Linked DNA regions of Homo sapiens. The protein of the gene in region 4 interacts with the protein of the main gene of each other region in a pairwise test. Each region holds a gene or a part of one and is shown on either strand. Other genes may lie near its edges.

Region 1 (7,783 bases), on a different chromosome or scaffold from region 4:
CCGGGAGGCGGAGCTTGCAGTGAGCCGAGATCGCGCCCCTGCACTCCAGCCTGGGCGACAGAGCAAGACTCCGTCTCAAAAAAAAAAAAAAAAAAAAAAAAAAAAAGAATGCTTCAGCACAAGTGTACTTCATGAATCACTATCGCTCTGTCATGCAGGAAGACATAGCTAGTGAGGAAGAAGGTGAGAACTCCCACTAATAAAATGAGTGAGAGTCTCAAAGAGGGGGAATAAGGGAGGAGACTGCCCCTCATATCCTCTTATGCCCAATTTCTGCCTCCAAAGAAAGAAGAAGTAAAAGCTAAAAGGCAGAAATGAAATCTACAGGTAGACAGCCCGGCGCCGCACCCTGGGCCTGGTAGTTAAAGACTGACCCCTGACCTAACCGGTTGTGTTACCTATAGATTCCAGACATTGTAAAAATCCCTGTCCCGTTCTGTTCCGTTCTGATTACCAGTGCATGCAGCCCCCAGTCACGTACCCCCTGCTTGCTCAATTGATCACGACCCTCTCACGCGGACCCCCTTAGAGTTGTGAGCTCTTAAAAGGGACAGGAATTGCTCACTCAGGGAGCTCGGCTCTTGAGACAGGAGTCTTGCCAATGCTCTCGGCCAAATAAACTCCTTCCTTCTTTGACTTGGTGTCTGAGAGTTTTGTCTGCATCTTGTCCTGCTACAAGCTCACGGCAACCTCTGCCTCCTGGGTTCAAGCAATTCTTCTGCCTCAGCCTCCTGAGTAGCTGGGACTATAGGCACGCACCACCACGCCCGGCTATTTTTTGTATTTTTAGTAGAGATGGAGTTTCACCCTGTTGGCCAGACTGGCCTCGAACTCCTGACCTATGATCTGCCCGCCTCGGCCTCCCAAAGTGCTGGGATTATAGGCATGAGCCACCGCACCTGGCCCATACAGCTTTTATAATATTATAGATTTTTTTCTTCCCAATGTTTTAAGAGATGGGGTCTTGGCCGGGCACAGTGGCTCACGTCTGTAATCCCAGCACTTTGGGAGACCAAGGCAGGCAGATCAACTGAGGTCAGGGGTTCGAGACCAGCTTAGCCAACATGGTGAAACCCTGTCTCTACAAAACATACAAAAAATTAGCTGGGCATGGTGGCGGGCCCCTGTAGTCCCAGCTACTCGGGAGGCTGAGGCTGGAGAATCACTTGAACCCAGGAGGTGGAGCTTGCAGTGAGCCGAGATTGCACCACTGCACTCCAGCCTGAGCAACAGAGTCAGACTCCATCCGAAAAAAAAAAACAGTTTTGAAAGTGTTGAGCACCCGATTCTATCGCTGATCGGGGCGCCACTTGTAACCTGCACGGACCTAAGGGGACTGAACAAAGGGGGCGAACTCGGGAATAAAGACAAGAGACAAAAGAGTATATTTGGAAGAGGGCGTCAGGGGGCACCTTGCCTCTAGTGGACAAGGGCCCTGAGCTTTACACAGCCCTCCGTATCTATTAGGCAAAAGAGATAGTGAGAAAAGGGGGGTGATTGTCGGGTAATTGTCAGTCGGCCTTGAACAGGCTGCATCCTTTGGACAATAGAGTATTTCTCAATAGATAACTTCAAGGAGCCCAGAGCCAGGGAGCGAGGCCCTCAGCAAACCTTTTGGTGGCAGGGCAGTGTGAGTTCACCCACATCCTGCATTCATGGTAAACAGTTTGCTGTTTGATCATAGAGCCTCCAGCGGAATGCTGAGTTGGTCACGTCCCACGGGCCTTCGGCTCCCTGCATGAAGCTATGACACAGGTGCCCTCCCTACAGTCTTTCCCAGGCCTGCTGGGTCTCAAGTAGCCATGTGGCACCCAGGGAGGCTGTCAAGGCTGTCTGAGGCCCGAAGTTACATCCTAGGTTAGAGCTCAGGACAGAAGACAGAGCTGTGAAGGCAATGCCTGGAGGATCCAACCTCTCCCAGAATAGCCAGGAGGCAAAACTGGCGAAAGGGGACCACATGGGGCTGGATTCTGCTTGGGAGCTGCTGGTCGAGGCACTGAGAACTTGTCCCCAGACCTCACCATGGCCACCTGTCCAGCCCCGATTCCAGAGGCTCAAAACCAAAAACATAAGTAACAGCAAATCAACAAGTATTAAATTATATGTAACTAACAATTTTGAAGACATTCCTATTGACATAGGATGTTGTTCTCAGTCATTCTGCAAGCCAGGGACCTCCGGCCAGCGACGCCCCGCCAGGGCCTCGCTTGACACACTACCTGCTGCAGGAGACAGCCCGTCAACTCCCCCGAGTTCCCGAATGCTTGTCCACGGCCAAGAAGAATGAGGAGGCTCTGACAATCGAAGAGTGAGCAAGGCGGGGAATTTCACTGGGTGACGGGGCAGCTTTCAGTGGAGAGGGGACATGGCGTGGTCCCCCTACATGAAGGCAGGAAAGTTCCCCATGTTATGGACTCAGAATGGGGAGGGCGTGCTGATTGGTTTGTGAGTAATGCAAAAAAGGTTAAAGCAAAGGCACCACTGAAAGGTGGGCATGACAGTGTAGAAAGCCAATTAGAAAAGGGTAGGTATATGTAAAATAGGTGAAGGGTGGGACCAATCAGAGGAAAGTGCGCCAGACAGGAAGACAGGCTCTCAATCCGGTCTGAGGATTCGACTTGCAGCTTGGCTTTCAGGCTTTAAGCTGTTTTCAGCGTCGAGGTGGAGGTTTCACTGGGGACCTGCCCCCATTTGGCTGGGCATTTGGCTGCCTGCCTCCTGTCGCTATCACTCCTTTACTAGTGAGGACTAAACTGATCTTTTTCTCTCTTGCTCAAGTTCTTATCTAAAGGGCCTGGGGAGTCTGCCCTACAAACCATAAAATGTCATCAGATAGGTTTTATTTAACCCTATATAATTGGCTTAGTTTCCAACCTGACTCTAGCATAACGTCACATGACAGATAAAGGAAATCAAAATATTTTACTCTTTTTTTTTTTTTTTTTTTGAGACGGAGTCTCACTCTGTCGCCCAGGCTGGAATGGAGTGGCGCGATCTCGGCTCACTGCAAGCTCCGCCTCTGGGTTTCACACCGTTCTCCTGCCTCAGCCTCCCGAGTAGCTGGGACTACAGGCGCCCGCCACCATGCCCGGCTAATTTGTTGTATTTTTAGTAGAGACGGGTTTCACCATGTTAGCCAGGATGGTCTCGATCTCCTGACCTCGTGATCCACCCGCCTCGGCCTCCCAAAGTGCTGAGATTACAGGCGGGAGCCACCGTGCCCGGCCTATTTTACTTTTAAATATATTTCTTGGCTATACTTTGGATGCTTTCAGGTCATAGGTGGATTCAAAGATTTTCTGATTGGCAATTGGTTGAATAAGTTAAGTGATTACCTAAGACCTGGAATCTATAGAAAGGCGTGTCTAGGTTTGAACAGTTGGCCACCCTTGTGTGGGTGGAGTATTACATAGGTGCCTAGGCAAGAGACTGAAGGCACAAACTGTTTCAGTATAATAAAGAAAATAGTTAGAATAAGAATAGTCATAATACAAATTAGATATAGAGATGACCATGAACAATTATCAATCATTATTATAAACATTATTAATCATTAGCTTTTACCATTACTCTTTGTTGCATTACTAATATAACCTAGGAATAACCGGCGGATATAGGGTCGGGTGCTGAAGGGACATGGTGAGAAGTGACCTAGAAGGCAAGAGGTGAGCCTTCTGTCACTCCCACATCAGGGCTGCTTGAGGGCTCCTTGGTCAAGCCCTAACGCCAGTGTCTGGGAAGTCACCCGTTGCTTAGTAGACTGCGAAAGGGAGTCTCCTTTCCTTGGAGGAGTCAGGGAACACTCTGCTCCACCAGCTTCTTGTGGGAGGTTGGATATTACCCAGGCCTGGCCGCAGTCATCCGGAGGCCTAAACCCCTCCCTGTGGTGCTTCAATGTTCACGCTCCTTGTCCACTTTCGTGTTCCTCCTGTACTCCTGGTTCCTCTTTGAAGTTCGTAGTCGATAGCGGTAGAAGAAATAGTGAAAGTCTTAAAGTCTTTGATTAATGCTAACTTATGCTGCCTTCTCTCTCTGCTTCCGCTACCTAAGAGGGAAGGGCCCCCTGTCCTGTAATCATGTGACTTGCTTCACCTTGTCAATCACTTAGAAGATTCACCCTCCTTACCCTGGCCCCTTGTCTTGTATGCAATAAATATCAGCGCGCCCAGCCGTTTGGGGCCACTACCGGTCTCTGCGTCTTGATGGTAGTGGTCGCCCGGGCCCAGCTGTTTTCTCTTTATCTCTTTGTCTTGTGTCTTTATTTATTACAATCTCTCATCTCCGCACACGGGGACAACACCCGCTTAGCCCCGCAGGGCTGGACCCTACACCCTTGATTGGCTGGAACTGGGTGACTGGCAGGAGAGCAAGTGACAGTCTGTTCACACCTCCAGTTAGGTTACAGTTCACTTTGTAGGATAAACCTTTAGGCCGACTTTAGGTTATGAGGGCCGGGATCGGTGGTTCACGCCTGTAACCCCAGCACTTTGGGAGGCCAAGTCAGGCGGATCACCTGAGGTCAGGAGTTCAAAACCAGCCTGACCAACATGATGAAACCCCCGTCTCTACTAAAATTACAAAAAAATCAGCCGGGCGTCGTGGCGCTTGGCTGTGACCGGGGCGGGGCCTGCCGGCTGCGGCGGAACCACAAGCGGTGCGGGGCGAGGCGGGCGGCCTGGACGGCCTGGAAGGCCAGCGCGCACCACCGAGACGTGGGCTCCTAGAGGGGCCGGAAGCTTTCGGATAACAACTTCCGCTCGGGAAGTTTGTAAAAGTCTGGGCTACCGGCGCGGCGTAGTGGATGCAGCATCCTAGTGGAGGACGCCCCTGTGGTGAGTGCGCCCGTGTCCCCCGCCGCCCCTCCGTCCCTGGGTCGTGGGCTGTCAAACCTTCTAATTCTGCGGCCGCCCCAGGGCTGTGAGACCCAGCGTCGCGGCTGCTGGGACAGACCGGGGAGGCTGCCCGTGCCCTCGGCTATTCGGGGGCTGTTCTTCAGCTTCTTCCGGCTCGGCCTCCTCTTCTCTCCTCGCTCCTTACACTTGCAGGTTTGTCAGGACCCGGTTGCGTATCCTCTTGAAGCTGGTTTCTTCCTGGCCGACCCCGTCCGCGATCGTGACCTTAGTTATCCCTCATAGACACTTTCCACACCTGTGTCTCCAGCCCTATCGCTCCGATGAGACCCGAGCGCTTAGACTTGATTCATAACACCCAAAGCTCCCCGGCCCCAGGCTGAGCTCCTGCAACCTCCACACCCCACCCTCTGGTCCTCCCAGGCATTCCACCGCGAAGGGGAGGAGGCAGAAACCCGAGATTCGCTTCTTCTCCTTTCCTGCCCACGCCCAGCCACACAGTCACTGGTGCGTTAGCTCCATAACTGAACCATTTGCCTCCTTGCCATTCCCACCCTGTAAGTCCCAATCCTGGCCGTCTTCCTCTCTCACCTGAACGCCTCCCTGTCTTCTCCCCACCCCCATCCTGTTTTGCTGCTTTCTCATTTGTTCATCACAGAGGATCTTTTATAAAATGTAGCTTAGCCAGGCAAGGTGGCTCCCGCCTGTAATCTCAGCTCTTGGGAGGCCGAGGCAGGTGGATCACTTGAGTCCAGGAGTTCTAGACCAGCTTGGTCAGCATGTTGAAACCTTGTCTCTACAAAAAATACAAAAATTAGCCGGGTGTGGTGGTGCACGCCTGTAATCCCAGTTACTCTGGGGAGGCTGAGGCAAGAGAATCGTTTGAACCCAAGAGGCAGAGGTTGCAGTGAGCAGAGATCGCGCCACTGCACTCCAGCCTGGGCGACAGAGCGAGACATCATCTTATTAAAAAAAAAAAAAAAAAAAAGGTAGCTTAGGCCGGATGCTGTGGCTGACGCCTGTAACCCCAGCACTTGGGGAGGCTGAGGCCAGAGGATCTCTTGAGGCCAGGAGTTTGAGATCAGTCTTGGCAACATAGTGAGACCCCGTTTCTGCAAAAAACTTAAAACAATTGCAGGGCATGTTGGCACATGCGCTTTTGGTCCCAGCTACTGGGGAGACTGAGGTGGGAGGATCACTTGAGCCCAGGAGGTCGAGGCTGCAGTGAGCTGTGATTGCACTACTGCATTCCAGCCTGGGTGACAGAGCAAGGACCTGCCTCAGAGAAAAAAAAATCCTGTGTTAATTTGCCTAGGGGAAAAAAAGTAGCTATGACAATATCCTTCTGTTCTCCCGTATTAAACTTTGTTGCATTACACATGAAACCACGGCTCAGGAGGCCTTGAGGAATCTGGCTTTAGCCCCTTTCCTGGCCTATCTCACGGTTCTCCCTGACTCTGCTTTCCAGGCTGGGAAGCCCAGTCCAGGTTGTGCAAACACAGCTGTTGAGCTGAGGGGAGAGGGTGTTTTTTTTTTGTTTTTGTTTTTGTTTTTTTTGAGATCGTCTCGCTCTGTCTCCCAGGCTGAAGTGCAGTGGCATAATCTCGGCTCACTGCAACCTCCGCCTCCCGGGTTCAAGCAGTTCTCCTGCTTCAGCCTCCCAAGTAGCCTGGCTAATTTTTTGCATTTGTAGTAGAGATGGGGTTTCACCATGTTGGCCAGGCTGGTCTCGAACTTCTGACCTCAGGTGATCCACCTGCCTCGGCCTCCCCAAGTGCTGGGATTACAGGCGTGAACCACCGCGAATGGCCGGGAGCTGTTATTTTTATCACTGTGGTCATTGCTACTTGCTAGAGGAACTCAGCAAGGTGTTCTAATTGGAAAACACCACCCATGACCCATGTGCTCAGTGTGCCTTTTCATGTTTTTATAGACCGTTGTATAACTTTGGTTGAAGTGTCTGTTCTAATATTTTGCCCAGTTTAAATTTTATTTCTCTTTTTTATTGATTTGTAGGAGTTACAATTCTTTATATAAGTCCTTTGTCAGATACATGTATTGGGAATATTTTCTCTTAGTCTGTGGCTTACCTTTGTGTCTCTTTTTAGAAAAAAAAATTTAAACAATAGAGACAGAGGTCTCCCTATGTTGCCCAGGCTGGTCTCAAACTCCTGGCCTCAAGCAATCCCCCTGCCTTAGCCTCCCAAAGTGCTGGGATTACAGGCGTGAGCCACTGCACCCCGTCTCCTTTTTTTTTTTTCTTAACTGCCTTGGTAAACAAAAATTTTTAATTCTGATAAATCCAATTTGTGATTTTTTTTTTTTTTTGAGACGGAGCTTTGCTTTTGTTGCCCAGGCTGGAGTGCAATGGCGCGATATCGGCTCGCCGCAACTTCTGCCTCCTGGGTTCAAGTGAATCTCCTGCCCCAGCCTCCTGAGCAGCTGGGATGACAGGCAAGTGCCACCACGCCTGGCTAATTTTGTATTTTTAGTAGAGATGGGGTTTCTCCATGTTGGCCAGGCTGGTCTCAAACTCCGTACCTCAGGTGATCCGCCCACCTCGGCCTCCCAAAGTGCTGGGATTACAGGCGTGAGCCACTGCATCCGGCCTGAATTTGTAATTTTTTAAAAGTGCTTTTAGGGATCCATGAAAGAAATGTTTGTCTACCCCAATGTTGTGAAGATGGTCTCTCTGTGTCACCCAGGCTGGAGTGCAGTGGCACAATCTTGGCTCACTACAACCTCTACCTCCAGTTTGTGTTTTTTGTTTGTTTGTTTTTGTTTTTGTTTTTAAGACGGAGTTTTGCTCTTGTTCCCCAGGCCGGACTGCAGGGGTGCGATCTTGGCTCACAGCAACTTCCACCTCCCGGGTTCAAGCGATTCTCCTGCCTCAGCTTCCCAAGTAGCTGGGATGACAGGTGCCTGCCACCATG
Region 2 (7,025 bases), on a different chromosome or scaffold from region 4:
TGCTGATTGTGAAATGGAGATGATGACATTTACATCATGGGCTATAGGATGACTATTGAAATTTACACACATTGTAACACATGCTGGGCACTGCAGTGTTTGCTTTATGAACATTTTCTCATTAATTTTCACAACAGTTCGGTGAAGTGGGAACTATTAATGTATTGATGTGGAAATTGGAGCTCCAAGAAATTAAGAGACTTCTCCAAGGTCACACATCTGGCAGGTTGGTTCAAGAGGCTGGATTTAAACTTCAGGAGCCTGATTCCAGACCTGGAGACTTTTAGTTGCTTGAACACAGCATGTGAAGCCCTCAGGTGCAGGCAAACAGTGCAGACCAGTGAGGCTCAGCTGCTGCTGCTGTGATTATTGTTTGAATTATTATTTTTCCCCATTCTTGTAATGTCCTAGGACATTACTGTCTGCTCCTCACAGTCAGATGGGATTATCATTGTCTTGTATCATTTTCCAATGGTTTCCAACATAGGAGGCTTTTCTGTCCCACATCTTTGTATTCTGTCAGCGGCACCATCTGCCTCCACAGAGCCCAGTGGTTCTCAGGAGTTGCTCAGTGGTTCAGGGTCTCTGGACCCTTTGCCAGTAACCAAGAAGTGAGCTGTAATTTCACCTAATAGCTCCACAGCCACCTGTCACCTCTGTTTGACTTCCCAGGCATTAGTATCATTTGAAGACGTGGTTGTGACCTTCACTGGAGAGGAATGGGGGCACCTGGACCTGGCCCAGAGGACCCTGTACCAGGAGGTGATGCTGGAGACCTGCAGGCTCCTGGTCTCACTGGGTAAGACCTCATTACCCTCCCATGTAGGGGACCCACAGCCTCTTTGAATCCACCCTTTCTAGGCATGGCTGGTCCAGGAGCCTCAGAACCCAACCTTCCCTGATCCCTGCAGCCTCAGCACGTTGTGGTCTGACCTCCTCTTGCTGGGTTTCCCTGTGTCTCAATCAAAGATTGTTATGTAAGAAACACAGTCCTCCTCAACACTTTTATCCCACTGTCTAGCACAGCTGGCCTCAGTCTGACATCTTTATCCCAGACTGCCACAAGAGGTAATTGGCCCAGCTTGGTTGAGTCAAATGTCCTCACAGCCCAGTTAGCAGGACCTGTGGATAATGGGAGGTTCTACAAGCAGCGGGTGATTGACACAGACACTAAGAAGGTGTTTGTTATCAGTGCTGCTTATATCTTTTTCAGCAACACAGTCTCAGCTGAAAGGTCTCTTTGGCTCCTAGCACCTGCACAGTTAACCCTTACTTCCTAAGGCCTGTGCCTTGCTCCTCTGCTGCTACAGGAGATGATTATGATTATGGAAAGGGAGCACAGACACATTCTCAAATGGCATGGATGTATGCTATCTGAGAAAGCTGTTCTTTTTTTCTTTTCTCTTTCCTGTCTCTTGAATGTTGAGTGTTGGCTTAGGGCTGAATCTTTAACACTCCCATAGCTGTTGGTGAATTTCCTCCTCAGTAGAAAGAGTAGCCTCAAACTCCTAGCCTCAAGCAGGCAGCAGGAACTTGCTGGGACCTGTTATCATTTTGATTTTGCCATTTTTATAGTAACCTGTCACAGCAAGGTAACTAATATGTGTAAAGTGCTTAGAATAGAGCTGGAAACATAGCAAGTGTTCTGCATGTGTTTGTTACATTTAACAAATTAATAAATACCAAATGCTCTCCCACCTAAACCTTTAATGGACAGTTTGCCCAGAAGTTGGTCTGAGTAGATATGAATGGAGGCCCAAAGTCTCACTTATTCCAGTTGTTCAAATGGTTACCATCGACAGGGCTCTCCCAGTCCTGCGTCCTCACGAGGGATGAGTCATTAATGAAGTAAACGTGGTGTTATTTTATGACAACTGTGATTAGTTGTCGAAAGGAGATGTATGGGGAACAGCATTCCAGGAGGAGGGACCAACATGAGCAGCATCCCTGTGGGAGCAGGGTGCTTGATTCCTTAACAGAGATGAAGGCAGGCCTGATTCCCCTTTAATGCTGCTCATCACCCAGCTCAGTGCCAAGCATATGGCAGAACATTTGCTGAGTGTGCATGTGGCATGTAAGTGTGCGTAATCCTATGGTGAACATTTGCTAAGTGACAGCTGGATGCGTGCCAGGACAAGATTTTCCAGTTGATGCTTCTGGGTCCTGGTGCCTCAGTCATTGACTTCTCTCCAGAGTCTTCTGTCTTAGCCTTCACAGTTGGCAAAATGTGTGTGGCTGCATGTGGAAGAAGACCACCTCCTGCCAGTTTCACCCTGAAAATAATTTCTTACTTTACCTAATGAGAAGCCCTGAGGTGCTGCTGACTCCTGGCTTGGTCAGTGCCAATCCATGCTAACCCAGTTCTCTGTCTGCTTTCTCTCCTTGGTCTAGGGCCCTGGCCAGTATCCTTGTGGGGCAGTAGGCCTCCATGTTCAGCTTCAGTCACTGGCCTGCCTCACACAACTGACTATCAATAGATGCCATTCATCAGGCGATTTAGTCCTGTGTTTTTCAACCATCATGGGCACCAAAATCACCTGGGGAGCTTTAAAAACTACCAGCACTCAGTCCTTCTGCTCAGAGATTTGGTTTAATTTGTTCTGTTTTTGGAACTGGGTGTTGCTAGGTAGTTTTGATGCACAGGGTGGTTGAATCCTACTGACTTAGGTTAATTAGGGAATACTTTTGGTGAGGCAGGGGAGGGCCCTTTCTGGGGTTTCATTGCAGTATGTTAAATATATGTACTCCTTTACACCTCAGACTTTTCTTTTTGTCTTTCCCTGTACACCATACTCCATTTGTTTCTCCATGCACAGGGCATCCTGTTCCCAAACCAGAGCTGATCTATCTACTGGAACATGGACAGGAACTGTGGACAGTGAAGAGAGGCCTCTCCCAAAGCACCTGCGCAGGTTGGTGACTGAGAGTCTGGCAGCGGGTATCAGGGCAGCCTGCAGACCACCCAGGCATCACTGTGTCTGAAATGCCATGGGCAGCTATTTTGTGGTCTTGAGCAGTCATGGAGCCCTTGACCCCATGGTCCCCCGTCTTCCCACTTCTGTCACACACTCTTTGCCTTTATTCAGGTTGGAATATGTTAGGTAGGAGACAGATTCTAGGCTTTAATGATTTGCCACTCACTAGCCTCATGACTCTGGAGAGGTTGTGTGACGTCACTGTGCCTTTGGTATATAAGTTAGGCTGAGTTAATGACCTTCTCTGAAAAATAAACTCCAAAATCATGTGACTCAACAGATTAAGTTTCGTTTTGTTTTGTTTTTTTATCCATGCCATAGCCCAATGTGGGTCAGCAGGAAAGCTGTGTACCCTGTATTTATTTATGGATCACATGCATTCTGTTGTCAATATGCAGCTTTAAGGTTGCCCCGGCCAAGAGGAATGGGAGAGAAGGGCAGTAGTCACTTCCATTAACATTTCATCCACAAGAACTGGGTATTAGGCTACATGTTGTATCAGGCTGGGAAATGTGGTTTAGCTTTTTTATACCCAAGGAGAAGAGCCTATGGGTATAGTGAACATATACTTATCTGATACACTTAGCCTACATTTGAAAGATAGTGATGATAGTTTCTGCATGACTGGGTTGTTTGGGAATGTGATCACATAGCAGGAAACTGCCTAGCACACTGCCTGACCCGGAGTGGCTCAACAGAAGTTACTTGTAAGTAATATTAATGTAGTGTTAGTCATAAGGAATAGTGATAGCTCAGACATTCTTCTGCATTCAGAAGACAGTCCTTTCTTTTCCTGCAGATTACTATTTCAAACTACACTCTGCATCCCACCATTTTTCACCTTCTCCAGCCCGTCATTTATTGATCCATCCATTCATCTTTTCATTTATGTATCAGATACGCAGAAGCACTCCCTAGCCCTGTTGTTTTCTGGCCCTCCTGTCTTCTAAAAACCTCAAGGTGATGATTGCCTTTGTCAGTCCCACATCTGGGCTGCCAGAGGAAGCTGGAGCCATCAAGCAGGTGGATTTGTGACACTGTAGATTCACCATCTCACCCCTCTAGTGTCCTTCTTGCCTGCTCAGTCAGCCTTCACCCCTCTCCCCTATTCCACATCTTCACTTGAATGTCTCAGAGGCACCTCACACTCATCATGCCTAAAAGGACCTCATGATCACCCCCATTTTCAGCTAATGCCTCTTTCAATGAGTGGAGAAGGCTAAAAACAAACGTGGACAACCCCTCAACACCTCCATCTCCCTCATACCCAATATCCAGCCATCCCCGAATCTTGACCATTTCACATCACTCATGTCTCCTGAATCCTCACCTTCACTAGTTTCCATCAGCTCCAGCATTAGTACTCTAGGCCAAGTGATCATCTCTTGCCTGCATAATGCTACCAGATTCCTCGCTGTTTTCCCCCATGTGCTCTGTGCATCTGGTCAGCCCTGTGTGTTATATCTGCATCCACTCACATGTTCCATGTATCACCGCCTCCCTTGCCACTGATGTCAGAGCATCTGACCTACTTTATGAATAAAGCCTACACACTTGATTTTCTTGCTTTTTGACACTTACTGATTCATGTTCATCTGACTTATCCTGCAGCTTCCTTCTCACTTCTGTGGAAGAGTTATCATCCTGGCCATGGCTAATTTCTCCAGCAGAATCTAGATTACACTTTCTGCCTTCTCAGGTGTATTAGCCATCTACTATTAATATGTAACAATATTACCACAAACCCTGCAGCTGAAAACATCACTTATTTATTATCTCCCACCTATGGATTGGGAGTCCAGGCACAGCTTAGCTGGGTCCTCTCAGGCGTGTCATAGGCAGCTCATAGCTCATCATCACCATCAGCTCACTTCTTCAAATCAAGCCACTGTGTGAGACTCCAGCAAGACGGATGTTCCAGTCTTATAAAATTACATATATTTTATCATGTACATTCCATCATCTTTGCCATATTCTATACTTTAGAAGCAAATCGAGGTCCTGCCAACATTTTAACAGGGGAACTACAAAAGGGTGTGAACACTATGACTTGGGGATCATGAGAAGCCATACGTGAATCTCTCAGCTGCATCAGGGAACATGCTTCTTCACTTACTTCCTACCTCTTCTATATTTTCATCCCCTCTCTACTCAACATTAAAAAAAAATGATGATGTTTCTGATACCTGGGGGAGACTTTTTTTTTTTTAGTGCTCTTACGTCTCCAGCAGCATCTACATATTGTTGACTCTATTTCACCTGAACAGCCAAGCTTGTTGGAGAAGTCTTCTCATTCTTTGAAGAGACATCTACACAAGACTTTCCTTTATTTATTTTTTCCCTTATTTTTGTACTGAGGTGCAATTTATACATAATAAGTGTACAAATCATAAAGTTTCATTTCTATAAAGTTTTATATATGTACAAGTCAGAGAAACCATCTCACAGTTCAAGAAATACAGTGTTTTCAGCACTTAACAGGCTCCTTGTGCTCATTCTTTGTCAGTATCCCCTTCTATAAAAGTAGTCAGTGTTTATACTCTATATCACCATACATTAGTTTTGAAGGCATATAAATAGAACCCCCTAGTACATACTCTGTCCTGACTTCTTTTGATAATCTTTATGACTCAGATTCATTCATGTGGTTGCATATAGTTGGAGTTAGTTCATTACCATCATTGAATGAATAGACTACATATACCCATTTTCCTATTGATGGACATTTGACTTGGTCTCCATTTTTGGAATATTATGAAGACTACTCTTATGAATATTCTTGATTGTATTTTTTGTTGGATATAAACCCATATTTCTGTTGGGAATATACATACAAGTGGACTGGCCAGATCAAGTGTGGGCATATGATTAGCTTTAATCGAAACCACCAGTTTCAGAGTAACTACACCATTTCACATTTCCACTAGCCACGTATGAGAGTCTTCATTGTTCCATGTACGCCTGAGCAGTTGGTGTCTTTCCCTTTACTCTTTGATGCCTGGTAGTGGTGTTTCTCAGCACCACAGCACTTAAAGTGTTCTTGCCCAGGTCACTGTTGCCATCCTGATTGCTAAATTCAACTATAATGATAATAGACAGTGGTCTACAGTTTACCAAACATTTATTCTTTGTCACACGAATGAACTTTTGTTTGGTTTTTGGGTTTTTTTTGAGACAGGATCTCACTCTGTCGCCTAGGCTAGTGTGCAGTGGCACAATCTCGGCTCACTGCAGCCTCTGCCTCCTGGGTTCAAGTGATTCTCGTGCCTCAGCCTCCTGAGTAACTGGAATTACAGGCATGCACCACCACACCTGGCTGAATTTTTTGTATTTTTAGTAGAGATAGGGTTTTGCTGTGTTGGCCAGGCTGGTAACTCCTGGCCTCAAGTGATCTTCCTGCCTCAGCCTCCCAAAGTGCTGGGATTACAGGTGTGAGCCCCCACACCCAGCCACAAATCAATATTTTGTATGCTTTTTCTCCTAACAACTTGTAGGCAGGAACTGAGAGTATCCCAGTTTTTCAGATGAGGAAAGTGAATCTTAGAAAAGTGTGTTAGTCTGCTCTGGCTGCTGTAATAAAATACTATAGACTGCGTGGCTTATATAGCAGAAATGTGTTTTCTCTCAGGTCTAGAGGCCGCAAGTCTAAGGTCAGGGTACCAGCATTGTTGGGTTCTGATAAGGGCTGTCTTCTCAGCTTGCAGATGGCCGCCTTCTCACTTTGTGCTCACATGGCCTTCCCTCAGTGCCTTCACTTCTTACAAGAAGTTTACCATGTTGGCCAGGCTGGTCTTGAACTCCCGACCTTCAGTGATCCGCCTGTCTTGGCCTTCCAAAGTGCTGGGATTACAGGCATGAGCCACCATGCCTGGCCCCCCTCTGACTTTCATAATTGTCCCTAGGTGTGCAGAATTAGAAAAATTATAAATAATGATTTATGACACATTGTCATCATTAGTCAATGCGTGTCCTGGTTTTTTGTTTTATTTTCTTTCATTGCATTTTATTAATATATTTATTCATCCTCCTTTAAAAAGATTGTAATGAACA
Region 3 (7,025 bases), on a different chromosome or scaffold from region 4:
ACATTTATAATAGCTAATTTAAAATGTTTGTCTACTAAGTCCAGTATCTGGACTTTCTCAGGGATACTTTTGTTTTTCCTGTTATGGCCCATATGCTACTGCTTGTGTGTGTGGAAATTTTATGTTGAAAACTGGATTTAAAAAAATATGGCAACCTAGAAATAAGATTCCACTCTGCATAAAGGTTTGTTGTTATATTTGTTGCTACTATTGTTTCTATTGCTATTTCCCAGACTAATTATGTAAAGTCTACTTTGTTTATCATGTGCAGCTGCTGAAGTCTAGCTTCAGTGGTCAGCTAATGACGGTACAGAGATTTCTGTCTTTGCTGAGGGATTACGCGTGTTGGGGGGTGGGGTACATGCTTTTAACACTCCAGCAGGTAGTTTACAACTCTTAGTCTTCTCTTCCTACTTTACTTATGCAAAGCCTCATTGTTAGTCTGAGATGACAGATTAAGGCCTTATTAAGTATTTCCTGGACATACAGACATGGGACTTCTAGATTCCAAAGACTACATCAAAGGTTTTTAAAGCCCCCATAGGTAGCTCCTTTTCCAATTTTTCCTTTTAAGTTTTTTGGTTAACCTCTTGTTAACCCCAACTGGTGTCACTGCCTCAGGCAGCTGAGAGGTTAAACAATTACTGCTGATTGTTTTCCAAAAATGCCACAGGGCTCTGCAAAACAAGCTTTGAGAATGGAGTTTTTTAAGAAGCTTCTAGAGCAATCATATAGTGACAATTTTCTGAGACTGGGGATCTTAGAGGGCTCTAAACCTGTTTTGTCCCTTTCAGTGGCTTCTAGGCTATTAGTTATTGTTTGTTTTTTTTTTTAGACGGAGTCCTACTCTGTCATTCAGGCTGGAGTTCAGTGGCGCAATCTCAGCTCACTGCAACCTCCACCTCCCGGGTTCAAGCGATTCTCCTGCCTCAGCCTCCCAAGTAGCTGAGATTACATACACACACCACCATGCCTGGCTAATTTTTTTTTTTGTACTTTTAGGAGAGACAGCATTTCACCTTGTTGGCCAGGCTGGTCTCAAACTCCTGACCTCAGGTGACCCACCTGTCTCAGCCTCTCTAAGTGCTAGGATTACAGGTGTGAGCCACTGTGCCTGACTTAGGCTATTAGTTTTGAAGGCTACAATGGAGCTGCGGATGAAGGAATGGGAATAAGGTAAGTTTAAAAATGACAAAGTTCACTGTTCTTACTGAGATTCAGTCCTTTTTCTTGAATAAATATTCCTCAGATTGTTATAAACCCTTCGTTAATTTCCACCATTCTAAAATGGTTTATTTTGATATTTTTGCCAGTGCTTTCATTGTTATTGTGCAGGAGAGACTTTTCAGAATGTCTTTACTCCAATAATTCAGATGTGTTCCAAGATAAATAATATATTAATGCAATATTTTTAGGAAATCAAAATTAATGTAAAAAATCCATGATGAACGAAATATTAAAACTTTATAGATAGGATCAGTAACAGTGCTATTACAAACCAAACTGGAGCCTGACACAAAAGGAAAACTCAGTAATACTGATCCTGTCTTCCTTTAAAATTTTGATATTTTGTTCATTATGGATTTTTTGCATTAATCTTGATTTTCTAAAATGCATAAAATATTTATTTGTATTACTAAGTGTCTTGGTGTCCCTTAAATTTTGTACCTGAGGCAAGTGCTCAACTAGCCTCTCTCTACTGCTGACCCTGGAGTGTTGCAGGAAGTCAGGGACCCCGAACGGAGGGACCGGCTGAAGCCATGGCAGAAGAACATAAATTGTAAAGATTTCATGGACATTTATTAGTTCCCCAAATTAATAATTTTATAATTTCTTACACCTGTCTTTACTGCAATCTCTGAAGATAAATTGTGAAGATTTCATGGCCATTTATCACTTCCCCAATCAATGCTCTTGTGATTTCCTATGCCTGTCTTTACTTTAATTGCTTAATCCTGTCATCTTCATAAGCTGAGGATGAATGTCACCTCAGGACCCTGTGATGATTGTGTTAACTGCACAAATTGTTTAAACAATATGAAATCTGGGTACCTTGAAAAAAGAACAGGATAACAGCAATGTTGAGGGAACAAGGGAGATAACCTTAAAGTCTGGCTGCCTGTGGGCTTGGCAGAACAGAGCCATATTTCTCTTCTTTCAAGAGCAAATAGGAGAAATATCGCTGAATTCTTTTTCTCAGCAAGGAACACCCCTGAGAAAGAGAATGCATTCCCAAGGGGAGGTCTCTGAAATGGCCACTTTGGGAACGTCTGTCTTTTACGGTTGTGGATAAGCGGTGAAATAAGCCCCAGTCTCCCGTAGCGCTCCCAGGCTTATTAAGACGAGGAAATTCCCGCCTAATAAATTTTGGTCAGACTAGTTGTCTGCTCTCAAACCCTGTCTCCTGATAAGATGTTATCAATGACAATGCATGCCCAAAACTTCATTAGCGATTTTAATTTCACCCCGGTCCTGTGATCTCACCCTGCCTCCATTTGCCATGTGATATTTTATTACCTTGTGAAGCATGTGATCTCTGTGACCCACACACTATTCGTACACTCCCTCCCCTTTTGAAAATCACTAATAAAAACTTGCTGGTTTTGCGGCTTGAGGGGCATCACGGAACCTGCCAACATGTGATGTCTCCCCCAGACACCCAGCTCTAAAATTTCTCTCTTTTGTACTATTTCCCTTTATTTCTCAGACCGGCCAATACTTAGGGAAAATAGAAAAGGACCCACGTCAAATATTGGGGGCTGAATTTCCCCCGATACTGAAGAAATGTGGCTGCAGGTCACATTCCTGCTTTTATTGTTATTCTCTAAACTGAGATATTAATGCTAACTCACATTTATATTTTATTCCAATATCCTGGGCCATTATCAAAATTATAATCCTAAAATTTAGCAGAAAAATTTCAGTATAAAGTTTGGGGGTAGAGGACAATGTATTTATATTAAAATAACTTCAAAATCTGCTAGTAGTGGCAAATTAGCTCACTCAATATAAAACTAATTACTACCTGCCAGTTAAACTAATACAATGTGGATTTAAAAAAAAAGAATACTTGCTAGAGTCTTCAGAAAACTAAACCTAATGTTTGGCATGTTCACTGTACAAACTTCCAATGATACCATGTAACACTAATGGAAAATGCATCAGGCTTAGAAACATCAATTTCAACCAAAATTATTCTGCTACATGATTTCAATTCTCAAATTAACTTTCCCTGAAATAAACTGATAGTAATATAAGAATTAGAAGCAAAAAAATGTGTTTGGCTTAATATGTGGCAACATTTCCAACCTGAGAACACAATTATTTGTGTGTAGAAAAATACTGCCTGTCTTGAGAAGCTATTTTCAATGAGTAATGTCAAACAGCTTAGCACAAAGATAATTAATTCAGGATGATTTGAGATTACTTCTCCCGTATTTACAGAGCTAGTGTTCATATTAAATTTTTAGACTAGTACTCTGCAGTAGCAATCTGATGAAGTGTGGAAAATAAACTTCCCTATTAAGTGTTATTTGCTTCTGCTGTTTTATTATCATTTATTGTAATCCAAGGCTATATATTCCTGGCTTTCTCTATTGTACTTTTGGGGAAAAGCACTTAAAATCAGTGTATCAATATCAGCCTGTTTCTGGACAAATGTATTTGCCTTATTACAGTCTTCATAGACGCTAATGCATTATGTTGGCTTTTCATTTCTGCAAGGTGAGTCAAACTTTCTAAAGTCAGTATCAGGCCATCATCAATACTGGTTTGGCCCTAATCACACACACTGCTGGCTTATCTATAATGACTGTGTGTAAACACTCTTTTGTTTTTCTATGGGAACTGAACATACTGGTACAATGGGTCTACAGTAAACAGAGTAAAAAGACTAATAAGGAGAGGACCTCAGAGATCATATAGCCTATCCTCTCTGGGACAAGGGAAGTACATTTGGCTGAAATACAATAATCTTGTTTTTAAAATCTCTCAACAGATAAACAGTCTCGTCTTCTATCTAGTCTGATAATAAAAAATAGAAATAAAGAGACCAAAGTAATCATTTTTTATCTATTCATTCATCTAACCATGTATTTTAAATTTATTGATTTATTTACTTATTTAGCAGATGATATGACCATCTATCTGGAAAATCCAAGGAAAATAACCACAAAACAAGGTTATAATTAATAAGAGCTTGAAAAGTGCTTGGTTACATTACATTTTAGAATAGCTTTCTATATATCAATTATTGGTTATATGTAATACAACCAACATATAGAATATATACAACCAATTAGAAGAAGGCCCACTTACAAAAGCTAAAGAGGAGTATCAAATACCCAGGAATGACCTTAAGTTCCCCATTTTCCAAATACAATAGGGCACGTGAGAGAAGCTTGCAAAGTAAGAGACCACATGAAGTCATGACAGGCACAGAGAAGAGTCAGGAACACCAGACTCCTATAAATGCCACCTCCCCAATGCCAGCTGCATATGCTCACTCAAGCTGCTGTGATGCTCCCTACCCACCAGCAAACAATCCAAGGAACCTCTATATGAGAGATTTGTGTTTTGGTTGTTGAGAGTTTAAAATGGTTACAAGCTAACAGCTTAAAAAATGAAACAGCTATCCCATCCTGGTTCCATACCCCTGTCCCCATGAGTATAGAAAGGCTGTAACTAAAAACCAGCAGACAGGCCCTGGCTGCTGCTCCCCAATGGTTTCTTCACCTTCTCCATGGAGAAATTCATGACAGCCTGTTGCCAGGGGTGTGTGTGTGTGTGTTGTTCTGGTTAGCAGATGTTGAGCAGCCATCTGGGCATGCAGGAGCCTCGGTCAATGACTGAGTAATTTCCCCTCCTCAAACCCTAACCAACCCCAGTTCCCTTTAAGCTGGGGATTCTCTCTAGGCTCAGTTCAAATCAGAAAGTTGTTCTAGGTTCCTGATATTAAGACATTCCTCGAGAAAGAGCCGTGTGGTTTCCACTGTCCACATCTTTTATACATCATAGTTCCATTTGTTCCCAGGGTGACTGCAGGGAATCCAGGCTGGAGTGAGCTTGCCCCCAGCCTCTTTCCTATGACAAACCAGTGGGAGCCATCATTGAAAACATACACTCTCATTCCTTACTCCTATTCAGGTATGGTCTAGGCTGGATTCCGATGCCCTGAGAGGTCCTCAGTTCCAAGCCACCATACCACTAAGGCCCCAAGAACAACACCAGTGTTCGTGGGCAGCCTCAGGTGGCTGGAGTGGGGGATGGGGCTGCTGTCATGAGGAAAAGCTGGCCATGAGCATGAGATTCCCCCACTGCGGCCTGCAGCTGCCTCCCTGTGCTCCCCACAAATGCCAGCTGCACTCTGGTCAGGTGGCTCACTCTTCCATCTCCTTTAGGGCTCTGCTCAACATCTCCTTTCAGTGAGGCATTCCCTGACCACACTACTTGAAATAGCAATTCCCCATAACCCACTCCTGCTCCCCCATCTCTGATTTATTTTCTCCATAGCAGTATCCATACCTGATATATTAAGTACTTAACCTCATCTGATTCATTCCATTACACTGTAAGTTCCTCAAGGATGCAGTTTTTGTCTGTTTTATTTGCTGCTCTATACCTAATATGTAAAAGTGCCTGGCCTATGGAGACACTCAAACTTTTTTGTTGGATGGTGTTTAAAAAAAAAAAAAAAAGCTAGACACTGGTTAAAGGCAGTAAAGACAGATTTTACCCAGTACAACTGCAGTGAGAGAAAGAGACTTCAGTATAGAACTGAGCTCAACTCCAATTCAGGTAGAGGTGACTGGGTGTTTTAAAGGGAGAATAAGGAAGTAGGGAGGAGAAATGAGAATGTGTGGGGGCTCAAGCAGGGTCAAGGACACAGAACATTACAGCAATCAGGCAAGGGGGCTTGCCAATGAGACTAGGCCATCTGTGACTGCTAAATGGCACTTGTCAAAGTTAGGCTCCTACCCATCTACAGAGACTAGAGGACAGAGCCCTATCCTCCCTGATGATTACACTTCAAAGGAATGGCTCACAGACACTGAGGAAGACACTCCAGGTGGTAGGAGATACACATATATCTCAAAGGCACAGAGAAAGAATTACAATTGTAAGTTTTTAATAAACGATCTAACAAAATGAAAGTCAGGGGCCTATTATCATTTGTGTGGGCTAGAACAAAAGATAAATTCTTTGGGGCAGCCTTGAGCTTTTCTAGGTAGGAATGCAAGTGAGGCTGGGTGATCCCAGACACATGGCCTTAGGCTGCTAGATGCCATGTTATATGGTTTGGCTGTGTCCCCACCCAAATGTCATCATGAATTATAATTCCCATAATCCCCATGTGTCATGAGAGGGACTAGGTGGGAGGTAATTTAATCATGGGGGAACTACCCTCATGTTGTTCTCGCGACAGTAAGTTCTCATGAAATCTGCTGGTTTTATACGGTGTTTTTCCCCCTTTTGCTCATTTTTCTCTCCTGCTGCCATGTGAAGAAGGACGTGTTTGCTTCCCCTTCCACCGTGATTCTATGTTTCCTGAGGCCTCCCCAGCCATGCTGAACTATATGAGTCAATTAAACCTCTTTCCTTTATATATTACCCAGTCTTGGGTATGTCTTTATCAGCAAGGTGAGAACAGGCTAATACACCATGCTACAGTGTTTTCAAATCCGTTGGAGGGTGGGAGCACAGACAAAATTGTTTGTGTTGAAAGCTGCAGTTCTTACGGGCCAAGGTTGAGGCCCAGTTGAGAAGAGGGCTCAGGGGAGCCTGACTAAAGTTTGGTCAAAAAGAGAGTCTCTGTGGATGGGTGGGTGGATGGTAGATAGATGACTGATGGATGGGTAATTGATAGACAAGGTATACCCGTTGGTGGGAAGGGTCAAGATGATAAGATCTAAAGGCATCCAAATTCACATAGGAAGTAGAAATCATTTCAGAGAAAAGGGGAAACTCCTTGACTCTTTTCAACAACTCGTTTCAAACATGTGTGTGGTAGATATTATAAGCCTCCC
Region 4 (6,935 bases):
TCTTTATTGCTTCCTAACTGGTATTATCCAGCTCTATTGCCCTACTTTTACCCATCAGATTTACTCTTTTTAAAAATCAGATTCTGGCCAGGCACAGTGGCTCGCGCATATTAATCCCAGCACTTGGAAGGCTGAGGTGGGAATGTCAGTTGAGCCTGGAACTTCAAGGCCAGCCTGGACAACATGCTGAAACCCCATCTCTAACAAAAATACAAAAATGAGCTGGGTGTGGTGGCATGCACCTGTGGTCCCAGCTACTCGTGAGACTGTGGTGGGAGGATCGCTTGAGTCCAGGAAGTTGAGGCTGCAGTAAGCTGTAATCACTCCACTGCACTCCAGCCTGGGTGACAAAATGAGACCCTGCCTCCAAAAAAATAAAAATAAAAATCAGATTATTTACAAATAATAAAATTTGCTACCACTGCAGATACTCAAACGACAGTTTCAGGGGCTGTTATACAGTCTGTTCAGTTTGCTTCAAGTTACACTGGGAGGATGTGTTCACTTATTTCAAACTATGTAACTGGAGATATTCAGGCTATAGAAAGTTAGCTAATATAGAAAACATACTGCTAAAACAATGCTCTAATGGTACATCCACAATTTTCTGAAGCTAGAATGAAGATAGATAATTATGTATTATTGGCAGGGCACGGTGGCTCACGCCTGTAATCCCAGCACTTTGTGAGGCTGAGGCAGGCGGATCACGAGGTGAGGAGTTCGAGACCAGCCTGACCAACATGGTGAAACCCTGTCTCTACTAAATATACAAAAATTAGCAGGGCATCGTGGTGCGCACCTGTAATCCCAGCTACTCAGGAGGCTGAGGCAGGAGAATCGCTTGAATCCAGGAGGTGGAGGTTGCAGTGAGCCGAGATTGTGCCACTGCACTCCAGCCTGGGCAACAGAGGGAGACTCCATCAAAGAAAAAAAAAATTATTATTCTCTGCCCGCCCCCACCCCATCTTTCTTTAATACCAGATCTCAATACGGACACAGTCTCAAAAGCATGACAATTTTTACGTAAAGCATTATCATACTGTGTATGACCTTCAGAAATCTAGCAACAATCAACTCATTTGAGTTTAAAACAGCCTGTCCAAAATGCCTTTTATTTACAAGGAAATTATTCTTTGTACAATGGTAAGAAAATCTATTTTCAATGATATTGTTTCTGGTTAACAGTTCTAAAATGGACTGACGTTAGAAGAGTTCTTTCAGAACTCACTGTTGGCAATATATGCCTTTTTACTGAAATTCTACTACTCTCAAAGGTGACATTTACAGAATTTTTAACTCTTCAAAGTTGATCATAAACACGGTCTCTCTTTGATTCTATCAGACTTCTTTTTTACTTTATGGAGTGCTCAGAAACTTACGTCAGAAGTAATTTTAAGCTTTAGTAACCAAATTTATCCCAGCATGGTTTAAAATGAAAACAAAAATAAGTTGTTTTGCAGATGTCATGAAAGCAAGATCTAAGTTTTACTAAGGTTCCTACTTATTTTAAGCTCTTTATCCAACTTCAATTTATTTAATTTAAAAAAATCAAAAGAACTACAGCTTCAGAAGATTTAGCAACTTCTATCTGGATCAAGTCAACCTCTAACCAGGGCTGGCCAAAGGTTTTGTTTCTCACGCACTCTAATTTTAAATAACAATAATTTTAATAATAATTCAGAAGAAATACTTCACTTGGTTTCCCTTTACTTCTCTTCAGCCCATGACTTAACGCTGCACTGTGCCCATCAACTTCACGATTTAGCAAAGCAATTAACCAGCAACTCCTGAACAAGCTTCACAGGAAGATTTTTCTCATGACTGAGCAGCCGTTTTTATCCTAGGTGAGTTTTCTCAAAAATAATTGAGTAAGTAATCTACCAGCTTCTGGCATATCTTTGGCAAGTCACATTTTCTGCCTTGTTTTGTAGCTGAGAAGGGTATAAAAATCCCACGAAAAGAAACCAGAACTCCGAGCCTAGAAATGTAAATTATGATCCAAGCTAAACCACTCACCAGTTGGTTGAACCTAAGTATAAATAATTACCCCCATCCCAGCTCCATTTACCCATCGAAATGGCGATAACATAATCAGTTGCAACCACAAGGTGATGCGGTTAGAAAAAGATAGGAAGAAGAGTGCTCTGAAACGTGTAAAGGTGCTACGTAAATAGAAGGTAATAATCAGTGGTGACAGAACTCTCACCTCCTTTGCAAAACTTAAAGGGTCATCTCATGGCTTACAGCAAGAAAAGAGTCGAGCACAAGTAACCCGAGCCCGTTGGTGACACTTTGCCGAACTCCAGGGGGAGGATGATTAGCAGTTCCGGGCGGGAGTCAGGAGAATGCCAATCCGAGCCCAACGTGGGCTGCTCGCGCTCTCGCCCCCCATGGGAGAGAGGCACTGAGAGATCAAAATGCAACCCCGCTCCAAGCCACCCTCGCAAATGAAGGAATTTCGAAGAGGGGGTAGGAGGAGGCGGGCTGGGCGCGCCGCTGCCACCTCCGACTGGGCCACTCCTTGCGCCGCCAGCGCCCCAGCCCACGGTGCCACGTCCCGGCCTCCGTCACCGCCAGCCCTCACCCTACCCGGAACGGGGCACATCTTCCGGAGGCCACCGGAATCGTTCCCTTGCAGGCGCCCCTGGGGGGCCACACATCGGACCAGGGAAGGGAGGGGACAGTTAGAGCGGTTGGAACAGTTGCCCCCAGGCTGGCCGCCCCGGAACCCGGCCCGGCCCGCCCCGGCGGAGCCTCAGACACGGCCCCGGGCCGGGAAGGCTCCCCAAGGGCAGGCCTCGGCGCCGCCGGCCCAGCGCAGCCCCTTAGGGAGCGGCCCCGCGCTGCAGGCTCACCTCCAATGTGTCAAAAGCGCATGTTCGCCGCCGCTCAACCGACGTCTCCCCTCCGCCGGCCCGGCCAGGCCCGCCCAGCCGCTCGGCTCAGCTCCCCTACGCAGCCCCGAGCTCCACTCAGCGTACCTCCGCGCCCGGCTCCTCCCCGACACGTCAGGGACTGCCTGGGTGTCCGAGGCCATTCTGTGACGCACGGGGGCGGGGCTCGGAGCATGCGCGGCAGCGCACGGGTATGCGGGGCGGGGTGGGGCGGGGCTGGTGTCACAGGGGGCGGGCCAGAGCCCGGCGCGCTGACGCCAAGCTGACGGCGTCCTCTTGCGCAGGCGTCCTCTTGCGCAGGCGCTCCTGGACTCTGCGACCGGCTGGTTTTGGCTTGTGCAGTTCCCTGAAACTGCTATTCGGGAGAGTGGTGCCAAGACGGATGGGAACCTGCCTTCAGTTTTCTGGCCACCAAGGCCCTTCAAGTGTCCATGTGTCTGTGTTCCCGTTTATAAAATGAATCTCGGCTCATAGTTCACCTCCGAGTCCATTCCCCCTGCTCGAACACCCAATGGAACATCAGGAGCATTCTAAGCATCACTCTCACAAAGCTCTGTGTTGTTTTTACAGAACTTCCACTGTTTACATTTTGTATTTGTTCTCATCTTCCTCCAGTAGAATTCTAAGTTCTATGAGAGCTAGAACCTCTTATGCCTTGCTCATCCCAACAGATAACTTGGTTCTAGGCAAAGTGGACGCTCAAATATTTGATGAATGAATGAATGGATTCGTTGGCACAAAGGGGATTTTATATTTGCCCATTTATATATTGTATATATCTGAGCATATATTCATTTTTGTATACATGCGTGTACGTGTGTGTATGGGTGTGACTTTCTCCCCTCCAGGTCCCCCAAGAAATGGAGTCCTATGTGTATATATATACCTCTTACAATCCATCTTGGTTTTTGTTTGTTTGTTTGTTTGTTTGTTTTTGAGACGGAGTTTCGCTCTTGTTGCCCAGGCTGGAGTGCAGTGGCGCGATCTCGGCTCACTGCAACCTCCGCCTCCCAGGTTTAAGCAATTCTCCTGCCTCAGCCTCCCTAGTAGCTGGGATTACAGGCGCCTGCCACCACGCCCGACTAATTTTTGTATTTTTAGTAGAGACGGGGTTTCACCATGTTGGCCAGGCTGGTCTCGAACTCCTGACCTCGTGATCCGCCCGCCTCGGCCTCCCAAAGTGCTGGGATTACAGGCGTGAGACACAGCGCCCGGCCCCATCTTGCATTATTAATGTTTATATATTTTTAGTACGTAAACACACACGTGTATGTGTGTGTGCGCGCGTGTGTATTCCCTAGCGGACTTGGAAGCAAGCTGGAGACGATACTAGCCCAAAAAGGAGGGAAAGAGGGATAGGCAACTTACATAGGGAGTGGAAACTTAAAGGAAGAGATACATTTTAAAAACAATTTTAAGAACTTTTGCTGTATAATGTACAAGGTAATCCTTTCCTTTAGGAGATGGGGTCTACTGTGTTGCCCAGGCTGGTCAAGAACTCCTGACTTCGGCCAGGCGCTGCAGCACTTTGGGAAGCCGAGGCGGGCAAATCACCTGAGGCCAGGACTTCGAGACCAGCCTGGCCAACATGGTGAAACCCTGTCTCTACTAAAAGTACAAAAATTAGCCAGGCATGATGGTGGGCACCTGTAATCCTAGCTACTCCGGAGGCTGAGGCAGGAGAATCGCTCGAACCCGGGAGGCGGAGGTTGCAGTGAGCACCACTGCACTCTAACCTGGGCGACAGAGTGAGACTCCGTCTAAAAACAAACAAAACAAAACAAAAAAGAACTCCTGACTTCAGGCAATCTTCCCACCTCAGCCCCCCACAAAGTCCTGGGATTACAGGCACCAGCCTCCATGCGGCACGCAATGTAATCCTTTCCAATTTCAGTGCTTTTAGGATTGGATTTGTGGGTGTGAACACAAAAATAATGTGTAAGACATGCCTCAAGGTGAAAACAAAGTGAGCCTAGGAGGCCCAGTTTATATTTTTGAGGGCGATGGACATAAACAGGAACAATGCAAGATGGATTGTAAGAGGTACCCAAATCAATAAAGATCAGAGAAGGGATTAATGGGGTTTGTGGGAAAGGTAACATATTACATATGCCTATTATGAATAATATTATGAATAATATGCATATTATGAAAAAACTATGCATGGATTTCCAATTTTTTTTTTGCACAGGGCCAAGCATGGTGGCCCATACCTGTAATCCCAGCACTCTGGGAAGCTGAGGTAGACAGATCACTTGAGCCCAGAAGTTCGAGACCAGCCTGGGCAGCACAGTGAGACACCTGTCTCTAAAAAAATAAAATAAATGTTTGCACCAAAATAAATTTGTTCTAACTTGCTATAACATGTCTGAACAGGATCTAGCTTGAAGCACCAAGAAAGATAAGAAATCAGTTTGAAGAGAGTCCCTATCAGAACACATATTCTACAAAATTGAAGCAATACAAAATACTAAATTTATGGTGAAGCCTGGGTGGAAAAATGGTGGAATCATTGACGCTTTATAAAAGTGTAAAAGGACAAAGCCCCAAAAGAAGTCAGCAGTTTACAAATGGATAATTCATTTTAAGAAGAAACATGATGATGTTGAAGATGAAGCCCACAGCAGCAGACCCTCCACATCAATTTGTGAGGAAAAAAAGTAATCTTGTTCATGTGCTAATTGAAAAGGATCAATGATTAACAGCAGAAACAATAGCCAGCACCACAGATATCTCAACAGATTTGGCCTACACAATCCTTACTGAAAAATTAAAGTTGAGCTAACTTTCCACCCAATGGGTGGCAAAACCATTGTGCCCAGGTCAGCTGCTGACAAGAACAGAGCTTTCAAAATTTCACACATTTTAAACAAGTGGGATCAAGATCCTGAAGCTTTTTTTTTTTTTGAAGAATTGTAACCAAGAATGAAACTTCGCTTTACCAGTACAATCCTGAAGACAAAGCGGTGGCTACCAAGAGATGGAAGTAGTCCAGTCAAAGCAAAGTGAACCAGTCAAGAGCAAAAATCATGGCAACCATTTTGTGGGTTGTTCTAGGCATTTTGCTTTCTGGAGGGCTAAAGAATAATAACGTACTTATTACGAGAGTGTTTTGAGAAGATTAGCCAAAGCTTTAGTGGAAAAATGCCCAGGAAACCTTCATCAGAGAGACCTTTCCACCATGATAAAGTTCCTGCTCATTTCTCTCATCAAACAAGGGCAATTTTGCAAGAGTTTCAGTGGAAAATCAGTAGACATCACCTTACAGTCCCAATTTGGCTCCCTCTGAAGACTTTTTGTTTCCTAATCTTAAAAAATCTTTAGGCCAGGCGCAGTGGCTCATGCCTGTAATCCCAGCACTTTGGGAAGCCGAGGCAGGCGGATCACGAGGTCAGGAGATCGAGACCATCCTGGCTAACACGGTGAAAACCCGTCTCTACTAAAAATCCAAAAAATTAGCTGGGTGTAGTGGTGGACGCCTGTAGTCCCAGCTACTTGGGAGGCTGAGGCAGGAGAATGGCATGAACCCGGGAGGCGGAGCTTGCAGTGAGCCGAGATCGCGCCACTACACTCCAGCCTGGGCAACAGAGCGAGACTCTGTCTCAAAAAATATATATATATTGGCCTGCCATTAAATATATATATATTTATATTTATATTTATATATAATATATATATTTATATATAAATATATATATATATCTCTTTAAAGGGTAGCCATTTTTCTTCAGTTAATAATGTAAAAAAGACTGCATTAACATGCTTAAAATCCCCAGATCCTCAATTCTTTAGGGATGTACTAAATAAATGGCTGATATCATGGTTACGAAAGTATCCTGACCTTGGCTGGGCACAGTGGCTCACACCTGTAATCTCAGCACTTTGGGAGACCTGGGGCGGGTAGATCACTTGAGGCCAGGAGTCCAAGACTAGCCTGGCCAACATGGTGAAACCCCGTCTCTACTAAAAATATAGAAAAATTAGCTGAATGTGATGGCATGTGCCTGTAATCCCAGCTACTCAGGTGGGTGAAGCTTGAGA

What was found.
Region 1: the proteins of NDEL1 (region 4) and ZNF707 interact in binary tests that used the Homo sapiens proteins (3 or more experiments, as listed by UniProt).
Region 2: the proteins of NDEL1 (region 4) and ZNF599 interact in binary tests that used the Homo sapiens proteins (3 or more experiments, as listed by UniProt).
Region 3: the proteins of NDEL1 (region 4) and MTUS2 interact in binary tests that used the Homo sapiens proteins (3 or more experiments, as listed by UniProt).

What each region holds. Positions count from the first base shown.
Region 1 is NC_000008.11:143,679,711-143,687,493, forward strand, and holds the start of ZNF707 (zinc finger protein 707), read left to right. Parts: upstream 1-4,768; 5' UTR 4,769-4,832; intron 4,833-7,206; exon of another isoform or gene 7,207-7,304; intron 7,305-7,670; exon of another isoform or gene 7,671-7,768; intron 7,769-7,783. UniProt on the Homo sapiens protein: May be involved in transcriptional regulation.
Region 2 is NC_000019.10:34,763,203-34,770,227, reverse strand, and holds part of ZNF599 (zinc finger protein 599), read left to right. Parts: intron 1-672; coding exon 673-799; intron 800-2,816; coding exon 2,817-2,912; intron 2,913-7,025. UniProt on the Homo sapiens protein: May be involved in transcriptional regulation.
Region 3 is NC_000013.11:28,823,339-28,830,363, reverse strand, and holds part of MTUS2 (microtubule-associated tumor suppressor candidate 2), read right to left. Parts: intron 1-7,025. UniProt on the Homo sapiens protein: Binds microtubules. Together with MAPRE1 may target the microtubule depolymerase KIF2C to the plus-end of microtubules. May regulate the dynamics of microtubules at their growing distal tip.
Region 4 is NC_000017.11:8,431,966-8,438,900, reverse strand, and holds the start of NDEL1 (nuclear distribution protein nudE-like 1), read right to left. Parts: upstream 3,018-6,935; 5' UTR 2,856-3,017; intron 1-2,855. UniProt on the Homo sapiens protein: Required for organization of the cellular microtubule array and microtubule anchoring at the centrosome. May regulate microtubule organization at least in part by targeting the microtubule severing protein KATNA1 to the centrosome.